Homo sapiens: one gene and its partner. Each later gene encodes a partner of the first gene's protein in a complex. Each region holds a gene or a part of one and is shown in the gene's direction. Other genes may lie near its edges.

Region 1 (7,798 bases):
ATAAAACGAGAAAGTGTGTTAGGTTTGACTGATAAGACTCTAAACCAGGAAACAGCTCAAACTACCTGAATTGAAAAAAGAAGAAATAATTATGCGTTATAAGACAAATGAAATAAATGTATTATGGTATAACTGTTGTATTTATTAATTGCCACTGCCATACATAGGTCTAGTCTGTTCTCACCTTCTGTTTGCTTCCTACTGCTGGTGTTGGGCCATTTCCCATAAAATATTCCACCCCCCGATTTTCCTATGAGTTGTCACAGAGCCCAGTCATCAGGGTTTCATTCTCCACATTGTCACTCTGAGCATTTCAGGAAGCAAGAATGAGTCCAGTTGAATGAAGAATGTTGGGCTTTGGGGAGGAAGTGCAGCCTTAGCCCCCAGTGACATTGCAATGGAATTTATCAGTGAAGCCATTCTCCATCTGTCCAGAAACAAACAAGCAAGACTGTCTAAAAACCCACCAAGTGGTGCCGATGCTCTAAATCTCCCTTACTTTCCCTCATCACCAAAACATCCTTTTCCTAAGAGCATTTCAGTTTGGCTTTAGTAGCAGTTAGGTTAAAGAGTTCTACGCCAAGGCCTCATCTGAATGACTGATTTGTTTTTTAAGTCTACTAGCCTTGTTGGATTTCCAAGGGCTCTGGATGTGGAGATTTGGGGTCCGATGAATCTTTTCTTAAACCTTTCCCATCAATTTTCTAGCTCAGGAGTTGGCAAACTTTTTCTATAAAGTGCCAGACAGTATATGTTTTAGGCTTTGTGAGCCATATGATTTCTGTCACAACTACACTGTCATTTTAGCAAGAAGCAGCCATGGATGATGATACATAAACAAATGGCTACAGCCATGTTCCAACAAAACTTTGGTTATAAAAACAAGCTGTGGAGCAGATTGCTCACCCCTGTTCTAGCCCAAGGACAAAGGAATGTTGCTGATTTCTAGTTATTTCACTGTGGTGAAGGTCTTCAGCTCTAGGAAAGACAGAGGAAGGGATTCTGGGAGGTTGTAGCAGTGGAAAAAGTTCTTTTCTTCCTCTGATCGCCCTCTCAGCTCTTTCCTTCTGACTGAAAATCATCTTCAGCACCTCTCTTTTACCACCTCTGCCACCACCCACCCACTGCGAGTCCTATTGGCTATAGGTTGTATGCAGGCAGTAGTAGAGCTATCAAAGGATATTAAGAAAGGGAGTGATTATTAATAAATCATGTAATGTTTCTGATTTTAGCTCTTAAAAACAGTTCTTAAATTTGCTGTCCACACCCCCTCCATTTCTATCCCTGGTACTGCATCATGTTCAGGCTCATGGCTTTTACCTGGACAGCTGCAGTAGCATCTTAACTGGTTTCCATGACTCCATCTGTCTCAGAGAAGCCAGCCTGATTTGGGATTACAGTCATGAGCCACCGAGCCTGGCCCCTGATCTGTCTTAAATGCAGGTCTGACCAAGGCACTCTACCACCTACAATTTGTTTATACTGGAGATTCAAGTTCAAACTCCTGGGTTTCCCACACTGAGTCCCTGCATTGTTCACCAGCCTCATCTCCACCACTCTACTTCAAAAGTTAGGTTTCAGGAGGAGCAGATTGTTTTTGGTTTCTGGCCACATCATGCTGTTTCGTGCCACAGGACTCATGTTGTTCCCCTGCTTAGAAGGTTCTTCTTATTCTTTACAGATGACTAACGCATTAGGACTCAACTCTGCCATTGTCTCCAGGAAGTCACTGAACCCCCCCAGGTTGGGCCGCAGCCTGTTCTCCGAGTACCCAATCTGGGAGTTCAGGGTGGCTTTACTTACCTCTATCTTAATGCCAACCAGATGGGTATTGAAGTCACCTGTGTGTTTCCCTTTTAGAATTAATGTTGTTCCCCCAAACACCTATCATAACACCTGGCACAGTACAAGTATTCAGTAAATATTCATAAGCTGGATAAATGACCAGAGCCTCTGGATTGGGCCTTGTAGTCCTACTTTGCCACTTCGTGGGGTCAGGGAACAGGAGTGTGTCACTGTTCATTCAGTATGTAAATCCATTTCCAAGTCATGAGTGTCTGTTTTAAAACAAGGGAATGGGCTGGGCACAGTGGCTCCTGCCAGTAATCCCAGCACTTTGGGAGGCCGAGGTAGGCGGATCACTAGAGGCCAGGAGTTCAAGATCAGCCTGGCCAACATGGCCTAACCCTATCTCTACTAAAATACAAATATCAGCGTGGCATGGTGGCATACACCTGTAATGCTAGCTACTTGGGAGGCTGAGGCACGAGAATCGCATGAACCCGGGAGGCAGAGGTTGCAGTGAGCCGAGATTGTGCCACGGCACACCAGCCTGGGTGACAGAGTGAGACTCTGTCTCTAAATAAATACATAAATAAACAAGGGAATAGCGTCCCTCTCAACTGTGGCTTTCTAGTACTTCCAGAGCCTAGTGGTATAATTATCTGGGTTCTCTTAAGTTCGGACCCAAGGAAATTCAGGAGCATGACAGACATACTTTATTTTACTTTTGATTTGCTATATAAAAACAATACTACTCTAGTCCTTTTATTCATTGGCTGACTTCAGTAAATGTCACTGTTAACTTTTTTTGTTTTTTGTTTTGTTTGTTTTTTGCTTTTCAAGATGGAGTCTTGCTCTGTTGCCCAGGCTGGAGTGCAGTGGTGCGATCTCAGCTCAGCCTTCCATGTAGCCGGGACTACAGGCGCATGCCACTGCACCTGGCTAATTTTTGTATTTTTAGTAGAGACAGGTTTTCGCCATGTTAGCCAGGCTGGTCTCAAACTCTTGACCTCAAATGGACCACCTGCCTTGACCTCCCAAAGTGCTGAGATTACAGGTGTGAGCCACCACGCCCAGCCATTAACTTTATAAATTTTATTTTTCACTGTGCAACAGAATATGCCTATTTAGTCTTTATTTCAACTTTTTATTTATATAAATTATATTTTTATTTTATATATGTAATTTGGATTTATATTGATTTTTAATATAGATTGTTATTCTCAAGCTGCTTTTTAAAAATTCTTTATGCATTGATCATATAACCAAGCCAAGATCTAGCCTACAGGAAATTGTTAGTGATATTTTGAAAAATTTTGAGATTAAAGAGCAGGTTTTGAAAAATTAAGAATGTTAAAGAATGCATCAACATTTGTCATTTGATTTAACATATCTCCAAAATAACTGACTCCTGTTTTCTACTGTCTTAAAAACTAGGGTCAGTTGGATCTCTTAAGGAGCAATACGGGCCTTTTATATAGAATAAAGGACTCTCAGAATGCTGGGTAAGTACTTGTTTTTTTAATTTTAAGAAAATGTTTATTATTTGCAAACGTATGTGTTGGGAATAAAGCTAATACAAAATTACATAAACCTGTCCTGTGTATCATCCCTGCCTCCTATGATATATTCCATTTCCCAGAGGTAACTGCTCTTAATAATTTAGTGTATATCCTTTCTTCTAGCTATATATAAATACACATAGATGATTATATATTTATATATAATCTTTCTCTTTTTTTTTTAACAAAAATGGAATCATGCTATCCATTCTGTTTTGCAATTTGTTTTTTTCACTTACTGTATCTTGGACATCTTTTCATGTTGGTACACACAGCTCTGTCTCATTCTATTTAAGGTAAGCCTTTCTTTTGGTAAATATGTCACTGTGGTGACCTTGTCTGCTAATTTTGTTTAAGTAGTGATGTAGATTATTAGATTATCCTATAGTCCTTACCTTACTAATTTTACTTTATTCCACTACAGTAAAATGAAGGGATCCGATAACCAAGAAAAACTAGTATATCAAATCATAGAGGATGCAGGAAATAAAGGTAAGCATGTGAAAGATGAAGCAGAAAAAAACATTGTCTTTGGAACTAGATATAGGGACCCAGATCTCAGCTTCCCAGGGTAGAACTCAGTGGACAGAGTATACTGAGGAAGGTAATAGAACATACAAATATAACATGCATGTGCTTGAAGGACACCCAAGAGTAAGGCCGTTGTTGCCTTGAAAGAGACAAGAACTAAAGGGCTGTGTCCAGGGATGGAAAAAGACGTCTGAATTCTGAGTCACATGAATGTATTATCTATTCAAAATAAATAAAATTTAAGTTTTTTTTTTAAATCTGTACCTTCTAGCTATATGACCATGGACAAGTTACTTAAACTTTGTGAGCTTCAGTTTCTTTATCTTATCTATAAATTGTGGATGCTGACACCTCTCGTTTTTGCAAGGACCAAAAGGAAAGCTGGTGTGGTGTAGCAGTGTCTTAACAGATGTCCCTCCGCAGCTATAGTTTCTCTTCTACCCGCTTGAAGAACTGTATCTAAATTGCAATCCTAAGTTACAATAATTTGGGATCTATTTGAGTCATTGATATTAGCTGGAAAAATTGAGATGTAATCTGAAATTACATAACTAATTCTTATATTTATTAAAATTAACATTTTTAAAAATAGTCCTATGAGAAAGCCATTCTGCATATTTTTTTAATCTTCCTATCTCATATGCCATTACATTGGGAAGAAAATAAAGCAAAATATTTACATACATTCCCTTTCCATATATAACACTTATTTCCTTCTTTGAAAAAGAAATCATTGCTTCTCACACAGGGCTTTTAGCAGCCATAAGAACCCTAGGCTTCCTTTTCCATCTCACAAATACAATGTTGTATAAATAATGGATTACATGCATGCAGACACTCATCTAAAGAGTGTTTTTGTCCCACTTGAGGATGGCAGTTGACCTTGACCCAAATTTAAGTTTGTATTTCACATTTACAATCTAAAATGAAAGTATCAGAAAACAGAGATAAGGGTACAGATGATAAAATTCCATTGCATCCATGATTTTTCCTTCCATTATAAAAACGTCGTTTTCATAATTTTTTTTTTCTTTTTTTTGAGATGGAGTCTTGCTCTGTTGCCCAGGCTGGAGTGCAATGGTGTGATCTCGGCTCAGTGCAACCTCCGCCTCCCGGGTTCAAACGAGTCTCATGCCTCAGCCTCCCGAGTAGCTAGGACTACAGGTGCATGCCATCAGGCCCGGCTAATTATTTTTGTATTTTTAGTAGGGACAGAGTTTCACCATGTTGGCCAGGCTGGTCTCAAACTCCTGAGCTCAGGTGACCCACCTGCCTCGGCCTCCCTAAGTGCTGGGATTACAGGCATGAGCCACCATGCCCAGCCCTTTCCATAAGTTTTTTAAAAGTTTGCCACACTGGGATTCCAAGAAATTTCTAGTTAGAAATTATAAATCATTATAATAAGTCTTACAAAGCATTATACTTATTTATTGTTTAGCATACTTTTGCTACTTTAGCCAGCATTCTTTACTGTTAGCTTTATACTGCTAGCTTTGGAATGAGACACAAGTTAGAGGAATAACATTAAAAATCCATGAAAACCAGAGTTCAACTTATTTTACTTTACTTTCTTATAGGAATATGGAGCAGAGATATCCGCTATAAAAGTAATTTGCCATTAACAGAAATCAACAAAATTCTGAAGAATCTGGAAAGTAAAAAGCTTATCAAAGCTGTTAAGTCTGTAGCAGTGAGTAGTCCTTTCCTCAGATACCCACTTACATATGTTGCTTCAAGTTTTTATTCTTGAAGTTATGTCATGATTTAGAACAGCTGGTCAAAAAAGACTTAAAAATTTAGCTCATGTTGGATTGGTTTGGAGATGCTGCTTAGACTTGTCCCTACACAGTTAGCTCTTGGTGTCTCACTCACCCACTCAAAAATCTAAAACTACTTTACTGTCTTCAGTGAAGAATCTTTGGAACTGTGAACATTTTTCCTAGATTTTGTGGTGTGTAAGATAATTTACTTTATCCCGACATATTAGCTTTCTCATTCAACAAAGAGTGTTTGCTGTGTGCCAGACACTGTTTTGAGTGCTTGGGATACATTAATGAACAAGTCGTAGAAAGATCCCTGCCTTGGTGGAGCTTCTCTTCTAGTACACGTGTGTTTTTCCTGCTCCTCATCCTGCCCCACCCCTGCTCCAGAGCTGGCTCCCTCGGGGACATCTGCCCCTGACCTCACTGATTTAGACATCAGAGGAACTGAGATTCCCCTAGAATAAAGTTTGCTTCAATACACATTTCATAAGAATTACAGCTATAATTCAAATTTTATAATTTCAGAGCTGTTAGGTCTGTGGCAGTGAGTAGACCTTTCCTCAAATATCCGCTTACATATGTTGCTTCAAGTTTTTATTTTTGAATAAAACAAGAATTATAAGAATTATAACATCACTTATAAGAATTTGATGCTTATTAGTGATTTTATTTATCAGAATAGCATTTCCCTTCCACATTGTTTAATGGATAATTTCAAATATATACAAAGGTAGAAAAAATCATATAATAAAACCCTATCATGTAGCCTCATTTTGTCAGTCCTCCTTCTACATCTTTATGTTTAATAACAGCTCTGCTGAAATATAATTCATCATTCATACTACAGAATTCATTCAACCTTTTAAAGTGTAAAATCTTTGGATTTACAGTCACTGGTTTTTACTATAAGCTAAGAGTTGTGCAACCATCACCGCTGTTCTAATTTTAGAACATTTTCATCACCCCCAAATGTGGCCACTAGTATTTGTTTCCCAGCCTCTCTTTCCATAGGCCCTAAAAACGAATAATTTATTTTCTGCCTTTATTATAGATTTGCCTATTCTGGACAGTTCCTATAAATGGAATAATAGAATATGTAGTCTTTTATGTATGACTACTTTGACTTAGCATGATGTTTTCAAGATTTATCCATATTGTGCTTTATTCCTTCTTATTGCCAATTAAAATTCCATTGTATAGATGTATATCACCTTTTGTTCATTCATCCGTTGGTGAACTTCTGTGTCCTTTTAAGGGTTAAAATAATCTTAGATCTCAGTGTAAAGTGCAAAACTATAAAACTTTTTGAAGAAAACATAGAAAATCTACATGACCTTGGCTTTGTTAATGAATTCTTGGACTATAACTCCAATAGTAGTCTATGAAAGAAAATGTTAATAAGTTGGAGTTTATCAAAATTTTTTGAAAACCTCTGCTTTGCAAGACACATTAAGAGAATGAAAAGACAAGTTACATACTAAAAGATATTTGCAAATCACATATTTGATAAAGGACTTGTCTCCAAAATATACAAAGAACTCCTAAAATTCAGCAATAAGAAAACAACACTTTGGGAGGCCAAGGCGGGTGGATCACCTGAGGTCAGGAGTTCAAGTCTAGCCTCACCAACATGGTGAAACCCTGTCTCTACTAAAAATACAAAATTATCCAGGCGTGGTGGCACATGTCTGTAATCCCAGCTACTTGGGAGGCTGAGGCAGGAGAATTGCTTGAACCCAGGAGGCAGAGGTTGCAGTGAGCAAGATTGCACCATTGTACTCCAGCCTGGGCAACAAAAGCGAAACTCCATCTCAAAAAAAGAAAAAAAAAAAAAAACACACAATGAAAACAAATAATCCAACTAAAAATGAGCAAAAGATCTGAACCTCACCAAAGAAGACATACAGATGGCAGATAAGCATATGAAAAGATGCTCTACATTATTTTTCATTAGAGAACTGCAAATTAAAATAAAATTTAGTATAGTGAGATACCACTACACACCTATTAGAATAGCTAAAATCTAAAAATTGGTAATACCATATGCTGACAAGATACAGACCAAGATGAACACTCATACATTGCTAAGAATGCAAAATTTTCAGTCCTTTTGTTAAAAAACTGGGCAGTTTTTACAAAACTAAACAGAGTCTTACCACA
Region 2 (9,636 bases), on another chromosome or scaffold:
ACTGGCAGACACACACTTTGTACAACGCTGCCCTTCGGTACCTACCACTGAGAATTCAGACCCTGGGCCACCACCACCTGCCCCCACACTTGTCATTAATGAAAAGGACATGTACCTGGTTCCTAAACTCAGCTTGATAGGTAAGGAATTTTAACCCCTGGAACTGTGACTTGCCTTAATTGTGGATTCTTCTTGATTGTCAAGTGTATGAAATGTGATTGTATTTACCAAGTATTTGCTATGTGCCAGACATCGTGGTGTATAACAATGAAAAAATCATGGTCTCTGCCATGGGGCTTTAGTATAGGAGACATACATTAATCGGAAAATCACATCGATATATCATTAAACGGTGATAAGTACTATGAAGGAAATATTCCTATGAAGGAACTGTCATAGTATTATGAGACATGCATTAATCAGAAAATCACATCAGTATATAATTAAACTGTAATAAGTGCCATGAAGGAAAAGTATGAGGTGTTATGAAAATATATAATGGAGACTTTGGGAGACTGAGGCAGGCGAATTGCATGAGGCCAGGAGTTCGAGACCAGCCTGGGCAACATGTTGAAACCCCATCTCTACTAAAATTATAAAAATTAGCCAGGTAGCCGGGCATGGTGGTTCACGCCTGTAATCCCAGCACTTTGGGAGGCCAAGGTGGGCGGATCACGAGGTCAGGAGATCGAGACCATCCTGGCTAATACCGGGAAACCCCGTCTATACTAAAAATACAAAAAATTAGCTGGGTGTGGTGGCGGGCATCTGTAGTCCCAGCTACTTGGGAGGCTGAGGCAGGAAAATAGCATGAACCCGGGAAGCGGAGGTTGCAGTGAGCCGAGATCGTGCCACTGCACTCCAGCCTGGGCAACAGAGCCAGACTCCGTCTCAAAAAAAAAAAAAAAAAAAAATAGCCAGGTATGGTGGCATACGCCTGTAATCCCAGCTACTCGGGAGGCTGGGGCAGGAGAATTGCTTGAACCCAGGAGACAGCGATTGCAGTGAGCCAAGATTGCACCACTGTACTCCAGCCTGGGTGACAGAGTGAGACTCTGTCTCGGGAAAAAAAAAAGAAAAGAAAATATATAACGAGAGACGGGATTCATCTGGGAGTTTAGGCCTCATGTTTCTTTGAGAAGGTGGCATTTGAGCTAAGATTTGAAGTAGAAGCTAACAGTGAGGTAACAGGAAAAGCATTTTTGGCAGAGGGAATAGTATGTAGTAAAAAAATAGCATTTGAGGAAATGAAAGAATGTCAGTATAGCTAAAGCATTGTAAGCAAAGCAAGAGAGGCATGAGGTAAGGTTAGAGACATAGCTAGGCAGGGGTCTGATCTCAGAAGCTAATCAGGATCAACCTGCTTAGTACTTGGATGGGAGACAGGCAGGGGCTGAATCAAGTAAGACCTTATAGAGCATCTGTTCTTTATGCTAAGAGCAAAGGAAGACCACTGAAGGATTTTTAAGGAAATGACATGATCTAATTTGCACTTTCAAAAGATTTTTTGTCTACAGAAAGGATGGGAGAATGGGGCAAAGGTAAATGTTGACAGACTGGTGGAAAATGAAAGAGAGAGGGTGAAGGAAACAAGTACTAAGAGTGACATCTGTGTGTCTGACTTGCACATGTGGGAGGATGATATCACTGGCCATGAAAGAGAGCATTGGAGGAGAAAGACTATAAGACTCTTTTTGAACATGTTGAGTTTCAGATTATTTCATCAGTTACTTGAGTTTCTTATAGCTCTTCAGCCCCCTAAGCAACTCTGATCTAGAGGCAGCTACAGATGTCTTTGGAATGAAAGACACCTGCTCTCATGTTTGGTCATTTCCTGTCATCATATGAGATATAGTCTAAGTGTTTAATTGTTTGTTTGGCAGGGAAAGGTAAAAGGAGGAGATCATCTGATGAAGATGCTGCTGGGGAGCCCAAGGCCAAGAGACCAAAATATACTACAGATAACAAGGAGGTAATGGGGCTTCTTGATTAGAAGTCCTCACCCTGAAGCAGGCCAGAAAGAGCACTCAGATAACAAGCCCCAAGAGAGCTTAAAGCTTCCTGAGCTAAGAAGCAGTAGGATTATGAACCTCATTAAATATTAGGAATAGACTAACAAAGAATGAACCATTACTGTCTCCCTTCTGAGCCTTAACTTAATTCTTTCATTGAACAGAGGTAACAGCTTATGTAAAAAGGGGCCTAGAAAAAGTTTAGGTTGCTCAATATGGCGAGAACCTAAAGACCTACAGGGGCCAGTGATGAAAAATGGGTCTAAAAACTATACATAGGCCTGAACTCATATTCAAATGCCTTCTTAGCGTACCTATAAAGATGTCAGTAAGCATCTCAAATTTAGTGTGGCCAAAACAGAATAATTGATTCCTCCTCCCAAATATCTTGCTCCCTCATAAACTTCCTCATCTTAGTAAAAGACACTACCACGTAGGCCAGCCGCCTAGGACACCACCATTTCTGCTTAAGCCAAAATCCTTGGAACCCTCTAATCTCACAGTAAAACATATCAGCCCAGTTTCCAAAATTACCTCAAATCCAACCATTTCTCATCTTTTCACTGCCATCTCTCAACTCTTTGCAAACGCTTTCGTTAATGGTCTCCCTAGCTGCATTCTTACCTACTTAGTAGCCAAAATGACTTTCTAAGTTGTTCAAAACAAAACAACACATCCACTGATTAGACTCCTTTAATAGCTTTCCTTTACTTTTAGAAGAAATCCAAGGTACGGGCTAGGAAGCCTTACGTGATCTAGGTCTTCGTATGATCTGCTGGAGACAGGGCTCTTCAACCTCACCTCTGCCCCGTCTCCATCTTACTCACTGTGTTCCCTCTACTGACTTTATCTCTTAAACATGTCAAACTCTTTCTGGTCTTTAGACTTTGGCTCCGGCTTCAAATGTTTGTCCCCAGATCTTCATGTAGTGGTCTCTGTTTTTATCATTTCTATCTTAAATGCTGTTTTCATAGACTTCAAGCACCATTGCCCACTCCTACACTAGTTCCTACCACATTTCTCATTTCATATACTTCACAGCATTTATATTTATAACTGGAATTATTTATTATTTGTGTACATGTTTGTCTAAGAGGTTTGGGCTTTATCCTGAAGGCAAAGGAGAGCCATTGATGGATTTTAAGCAGGGAAATGAAGTGACTGGATTTATATTTTAGAAAGATTATTATAGCACAGCAGTTCCTAACTTGTTCTACTCCATGGATGGATTTCAGAGAGTCCAGTTATACTTACGTGCATTTTTCAGTGAAGCTCTCCGTACCTTTCATTACATTCTTCAAAGGAACTGTGACCCAAAACAGTTTAAAAAAAAAAAAAGCACTACTCTAAGAAATGGGAAGAATGATGCAAAACAAAATTAGAAGGAGAAAACCCAGTTACTCCTTTTATAGTGTCTGCTATGTTTTAAAGGGAAAAAAAAAAACCCAGTTAGGAGGCTATTGTAGTAATCCAGATGGGCCAAGATTTAGAGTCTGAAATAAGGTAATGATAGGAGAAAGAAAAGTAGACATCTGATAAATATAAAGAATAGATAGAACTTGGTAATGGGGTGGTAGATTATGGAGAGCAAGGGACTAGGGGTGATACCCAAGTTTGTAGCTTAAGAAATCGGGTTGGCTGGCCAAGCACAGTGGCTCACACCTGTAATCCCAGCACTTTGGGAGGCCGAGGTAGGTGGATCACCTGAGGTCAGAGTTCGAGATGAGCCTGGTCAACATGGTGAAACCCCGTCTCTACTAAAAATACAAAAATTAACCGGCCATGGTGGTAGGTGCCTGTAATTACAGCTACTTGGGAGGCTGCGGCAGGATAATGGCCTGAACCTGGGAGGCAGGGGTTGCAGTGAGCTGAGATCACGCCACTGCACTCCATCCTTGGTGACAGAGCAAGACTCCATCTCAAAAAAAAAAAAGAAATTGGGTTGTCTAGGCACAGTGGCTCGTGCCTGTAATCCCAGCATTTTGGGAGGCTGACGTAGAAGAATCACTTGAGCCCAGGAGTTTGAGACCAGCCTGGACAACATAGTGAGACCCCATCTGTACCAAAAAAAAAAACACCAGACCTGGTGGCACATGTTTGTAGTCCCAGCTACTCAGGGGCTGAGGTGGGAGGATCACTTGAGCCCAGGAAGTCAAGGCTTCAGTGAGCCATGATGGTGCCACTGCACTACAGCCTGGGCAACAGAGCAAGACCCTGTCTCAAAAAAAAAAAAAAATTGGGTTGGTTATAGTGTAGTTACCTGAAAACTTACAAAACAGAACAGTTTGGGGAACAAATGGAAGTGTCAAATAGGCAGCTGAGTCTATGCATCTGGAGCATAATAGAGAGTTCCAGGATAGGCCGGGTGCGGTAATGCCTGTAATCCTAGCACTTTGGGAGGCAGAGGCAGGTGGATCACCTGAGGTCAGGAGTTCGAGACCAGCCTGGCCAAGATGGCGAAACCCCGTCTCTACTAAAAATACAAAAATTAGCCATGCATGGTGGCGCAGGCCTGTAATCCCAGCTACTTGGGAAGCTGAGGCAGGAGAATCGCTTGAACCTGGGGGGCAGAGGTTGCAGTGAGCGGAGATTGTGCCACTTCACTCCAGCCTGGGCGAAAGAGCAAAACTCCATCTCAAAAAAAAAAAAAAAAAGAGAGAGTTCTAGGATAGAGTAACAGATTTGGAAATGCATCAATAGTTGAAGCCTGGAGAGCAGATAAAATTACCCAAGTAGAGCATGTAGAGTAAAAAGAAAGGAAAGGTATGGACAGAACCCTGACAAAACACCAGGATTACAGTTGGGATCTGAAAGAGGAATCTGTGGATACTGAGGAAAGGTAGCCAGAAAGGTTCAAAGTAACGCCAAGAAAAAATGGTGTCGGCCAGGCCCAGTGGCTCACACTTGTAATCCTAACACTTTGGAAGGCCAAGGCGGGCAGATCGCTTGAGCCTAGGAATTTGAGACCATCCTGAGCAACATGGTGAGACCGTCTCTACAGAAAAATACAAAAATTACCCAAGCGTGGTGGCACGCACCTGTGGTCCCAGCTGCTTGGGAGGCTGAGATGAGAGGATCACCTGAGCCCAGGGAGGTCAAGGCTGCAGTGAGCTACAATCACACCACTGCACTCCAGCCTGGGTGACAAAGACCCTGTCTTTAAAAGGAAAAAAAAAATGGTGTCATAAAACCAAGGAGCCACATAAAGTTTTAAGAAGGAAAAAATGTCCAACCATGTCATATGCTTCCAAAAGGTTAAATAAGATCAGAAGTGGAAATTATTATTTGAACTTAACAACATAGAATCCTTAAGGACAGTTGTGGAATTTCACTGGAATGCGAGTGACAATTGACATTTCAGTACAATAGTGGAAATGGGTTGCGTAAATCTAGGTAGAGATACAACTGAGATGGCCAACTGTTTGAGAAGCTTGGCTGTGACACTAAGGAAAAGAAGAGAAGGCATAGGGTTGAAAGAGAATTCTAGAGTAGAAAGAGACTTGGACAGGGTAAAGGCTGATAAGAAGGCGGTAGAGAAGGAAAGCCTGAAGATGTTAGAGGACAGGGTAAAATAGAGCTGGATCCCCAAGAATGAATGAGAGAGTAAGATTTGGAATACCAATATGGGCATTAACCTTAGGTAAAAGGAGCATTTTTCAGCTGTGATAAAAGTGAGTGAAAATATGAATCAAGAACAAAAAAGAAATGTGGTGAGGATGTGCACAGAGCTGAGTGAGTTCTGGCCTAGTGTCTTCTATTTTCTCTGTGAAATGAGAGGCAAAGTCATCTGCCGAGAGTGAGAAGGAAGAAGGGTCAAGTTGGAGACTTGAAAGTAATGGAGAAGAGTTAAAATAGAGAGAGAAAGGCCGGATGTGGTGGCTCACACCTATAATCCCAGCACTTGGAGTCCGAGGCAGGCAGATCACCTGAGGTCAGGAGTTCGAGACCAGCCTGGCCAACATTGTAAAACCCCAACTCTACTAAAAATACAAAAATTAGCCTAGCGCAGTGGTGGTTGCCTGTAATCCCAACTACTCAGTAGGCTGAGACAGGAGAATCACTTGAACCCGAGAGGCAGAGGTTGCAGTGAGCCGAGATCATGCCACTGCACTCCAGCCTGGGTGACGAGCAAAACTCCGTCTCAGAAAAAAATTAAAATAAATGTTAAATAATAAAATAGGGAGAGAAAGATTGGAGATGAGCTTAGAAAACCTGTTTGAAGTCGGAATTTGTCTAGACACCAGTCTACATGACTGAATGATTTTTTTCCAACCAATGTAATTGTTACTGTGTAGGAAAAGAAATGGTGAACCATTAAATCCAAGCTCCTCACCAGAAAACTTTACACTATAGCTAAATGTTTCTCTAAATCTTTTCCTCAGCCCATTCCAGATGATGGGATTTATTGGCAGGCCAACCTTGACAGATTCCACCAACACTTCCGTGACCAAGCCATTGTGAGCGCAGTTGCTAACAGGATGGACCAGGTAATACCTAAGTGGGTCTGTCATTGGTCATCAGGGACATTTACTTATTTGTCAGATATGGCCATTGGCACATAGAGCCAGGGGCAGCACTGTGATTTCTGAATTCTAGTTTACTTTTCAAACAGACAAGCAGCGAGATTGTGCGAACCATGCTCCGAATGAGTGAGATTACCACTTCCTCTAGTGCTCCCTTCACCCAGCCATTGTCTTCCAATGAGGTGAGTTTCATGTTCTTGCACTAACTTTCTGACAGATTCTTGGGTGTTATCAACGTTTATTATACACAGATCCTGAGTTTGGGTTGAGGTCTGAGCCTTGAAAGAGAAGGGCATTTGATGTGGAGCAGGGATTATCTTCAAGTGATGAGCACTGAAATGTTTGGTCTCTTAGGATCCAGCTTTTAAAAATCTACACTATTCACTTAGTCAAAGTATCTATTCGTCAAGTACAGCCTATTCCTAATTATTTTAAGAATCCACAATTTGGACTCTGAGAGCCTTGGCATTCAGGACATTATTTGACCCCCTGTACTTAAAATATCGATATTTAATATATCCAATATGTGTTATTTATATTACTTTCATAGTAATACAGTCATGCATCACTTAACAGCAGGGATACATTCTGAGAAATGTGTCGTTAGGTGATTTCATCATTGTGTGAACATCATAGGGTGTACTTAACACAAACCTAGATGGTGTAGCCCTACAGCACACCTAGACTGAACGGGATAGCCTATGGCTTCTAGGCTGTAAACCTGTACAGCATGTTACTGTACTGAATACTGTAGGCAGTTGTAACGCAGTAGCATCTGTGTATCTAAACATCTAATCACAGAAAAGGTACAGTAAAAATATGGTATGAAAAATTAAAAACCACACCTGTTTAGTGCACTTAACATGAATGGAGCTTTCAGGACTAAAAGTTGCCCTGTGGGAGTTAGTGAATGAATGGCAGATTAATGTGAATGTGATGGTCTACACGCTCAGGCTACACTGTATTTATTAAAAACCAGTAACAGGCTGAGCGGGGTGGCTCACGCCTGTAATCCTAGCACTTTGGGAGGCCCAGGCTGGTGGGTTGCCTGAGCTCAGGCGTTTGAGACCAGCCTGGGCAACATGGTGAAACCCATCTACTAAAATACAAAAAAAAAAAAAAAAATTAGCCGGGCATGGTGGCATGCGCCTGTGGTCCCAGCTACTCGGGAGGCTGAGGCAGGAGAATTGCTTGAACCCAGGAGGCAGAGGTTGCAGTGAGCCAAGATCATACCACTGCACTCCAGCCTCACCACACATGTGAGTAATGTGTTTCACAACGGCATTGTGCTATGATGTTACAACAGCTATGACATCACAAAGCAGTAGGAATTTTTCAGCTCCAGTATAATATGGGACCACAGCTGCACACGGTCCGTTGTTGACTAAAATGTTATATGGTGCATGACTGTGTTTAAATATTCCTATATTTTTATATTGTTTATTTTAAAGTTCTATGGCCAGGTGCAGTGACTCACACTTGTAATCCTAGAACTTTGGGAGGTTGAGGCAGAAGGATCCCTTGAGGCCAGGAGTTGAAGACCAACCTGGGCAACATGACAAGACCCCCGTCTCTACAAAAAATTTTTTTAAAAAATTAGTTGGGTGTGGTGCCATATGCCTGTAGTCACAGCTATTCGAGAGGCTGAGGCAGGAGGATTGCTTGAGCCCAAGAGTTGAGGTTGCAGTCAACTATGATCATGCCACTGCACTCCAGCTTAAACAACAGAGCAAAACCCTATTTCAAAAAAAAAAAAAAAAAAAAAAGGCCGGACGCAGCAGCTCACACCCGTAATCCCAGTACTTTGGGTGGCCGAGGCAGGCAGATCACCTGAGGAGTTCAAGACCAGCATAGTCCAACATGGTGAAACCTCATCTCTACTAAAATTACAGAAATTAGCCAGGCATGGTGATGGGCGCCTGTAATCCCAGCTACTTGGGAGGCTGAGGCAGGAGAATCGCTTGAACCCGGGAATGGGAGGTTGCAGTGAGCTGAGATCGCACCACTGCACTCTAGCCTGGGAAACAGAGTGAGACTCTGTCTCAAAAAAAAAAAAAAAGTTTGGTATATATCTTTATTCAGACCTTGCATACTCTAACATATATGTGGGTATATGTATTTTTTAACCCCAAAATGGGACTATTCATATGGCTTTTTGGTTGGGTTTTGTTTGTTTGTTTTTGTTTTTTTGTGACAGAGTCTTGTACTCTTTCACCCAGGCTGGAGTGCAGTAGCGCAATCTCAGCTCACTGCAACCTCCGCCTCCTGGGTTCAAGGCATTCTCCTGCTCATCCTTCCGAGTAGCTGAGATCACAGGCACATGCCACCACGCCAGGCTAATTTTTGTATTTTTAGTAGAGACAGGGTTTCACTGTGTTGGCCAGGCTGGTCTCGAACTCCTGACATCAAGTGATCCTCCCACCTCAGCCTCTCAAAGTGCTGGCATTACAAAGTCGTGATCCACCACACCCAACCTAGTCATACTGTTCTATAACTTGATTTTTTATATGACAGTGTATGTAAAACTTCCTTTCATGTTAGTTTCTGTAGATTTGTCTCACTCTTCATAATGACTGTATCATATTCCACTTAATGGCCGTGCTATATTTTATTTTAGTGTACTCGGTACTGGTCATTTGGGTGTTTCTAGTTTTTTACTCTTACAAACAATCCTGCTGTGAATATTTTTGGACAGTTTTGTGGTAACTAAAATTAAAACTTTTTTTTTTTTTTTTTTGAGACGGAGTTTCGCCCTTGTAGCCCAGGCTGGAGTCCATTGGCGCAATCTCGGCTCACTGCAACCTCTGCCTCCCAGGTTCAAGCAGTTCTCCTGCCTCAGCCTCCCAAATAGCTGGGATTACAGGCATGCGCCACCACGTCCAGCTAATTCTGTATTTTTACTAGAGACGGGGTTTCACCATATTGGTCAGGCTGGTCTCCAACTCTTGACCCAAAGTGATCCACCTGCCTCAGCCTCCCAAAGTGTTCGGATTACAGGCCTTAGCCACTGTGCCCGGCCTAAAACATCTTTATTTCAGTAAGGTCAGGAGTTCTAAGTTCCCAAACCCATTTTAAGTGTCCTTTGCTCCATAGATCTTCAG

The links.
Region 2: POLR3F (region 1) and POLR3C share a complex: the UniProt entries of both Homo sapiens proteins name them as parts of the RNA polymerase III complex.

What each region holds. Positions count from the first base shown.
Region 1 is NC_000020.11:18,469,623-18,477,420, forward strand, and holds part of POLR3F (DNA-directed RNA polymerase III subunit RPC6), read left to right. Parts: intron 1-992; exon of another isoform or gene 993-1,069; intron 1,070-1,681; exon of another isoform or gene 1,682-1,743; intron 1,744-3,219; coding exon 3,220-3,287; intron 3,288-3,768; coding exon 3,769-3,836; intron 3,837-5,452; coding exon 5,453-5,565; intron 5,566-7,798. UniProt on the Homo sapiens protein: DNA-dependent RNA polymerase catalyzes the transcription of DNA into RNA using the four ribonucleoside triphosphates as substrates.
Region 2 is NC_000001.11:145,826,866-145,836,501, forward strand, and holds part of POLR3C (DNA-directed RNA polymerase III subunit RPC3), read left to right. Parts: coding exon 1-140; intron 141-1,883; coding exon 1,884-1,972; intron 1,973-6,394; coding exon 6,395-6,499; intron 6,500-6,608; exon of another isoform or gene 6,609-6,624; coding exon 6,625-6,717; intron 6,718-9,628; coding exon 9,629-9,636. UniProt on the Homo sapiens protein: DNA-dependent RNA polymerase catalyzes the transcription of DNA into RNA using the four ribonucleoside triphosphates as substrates.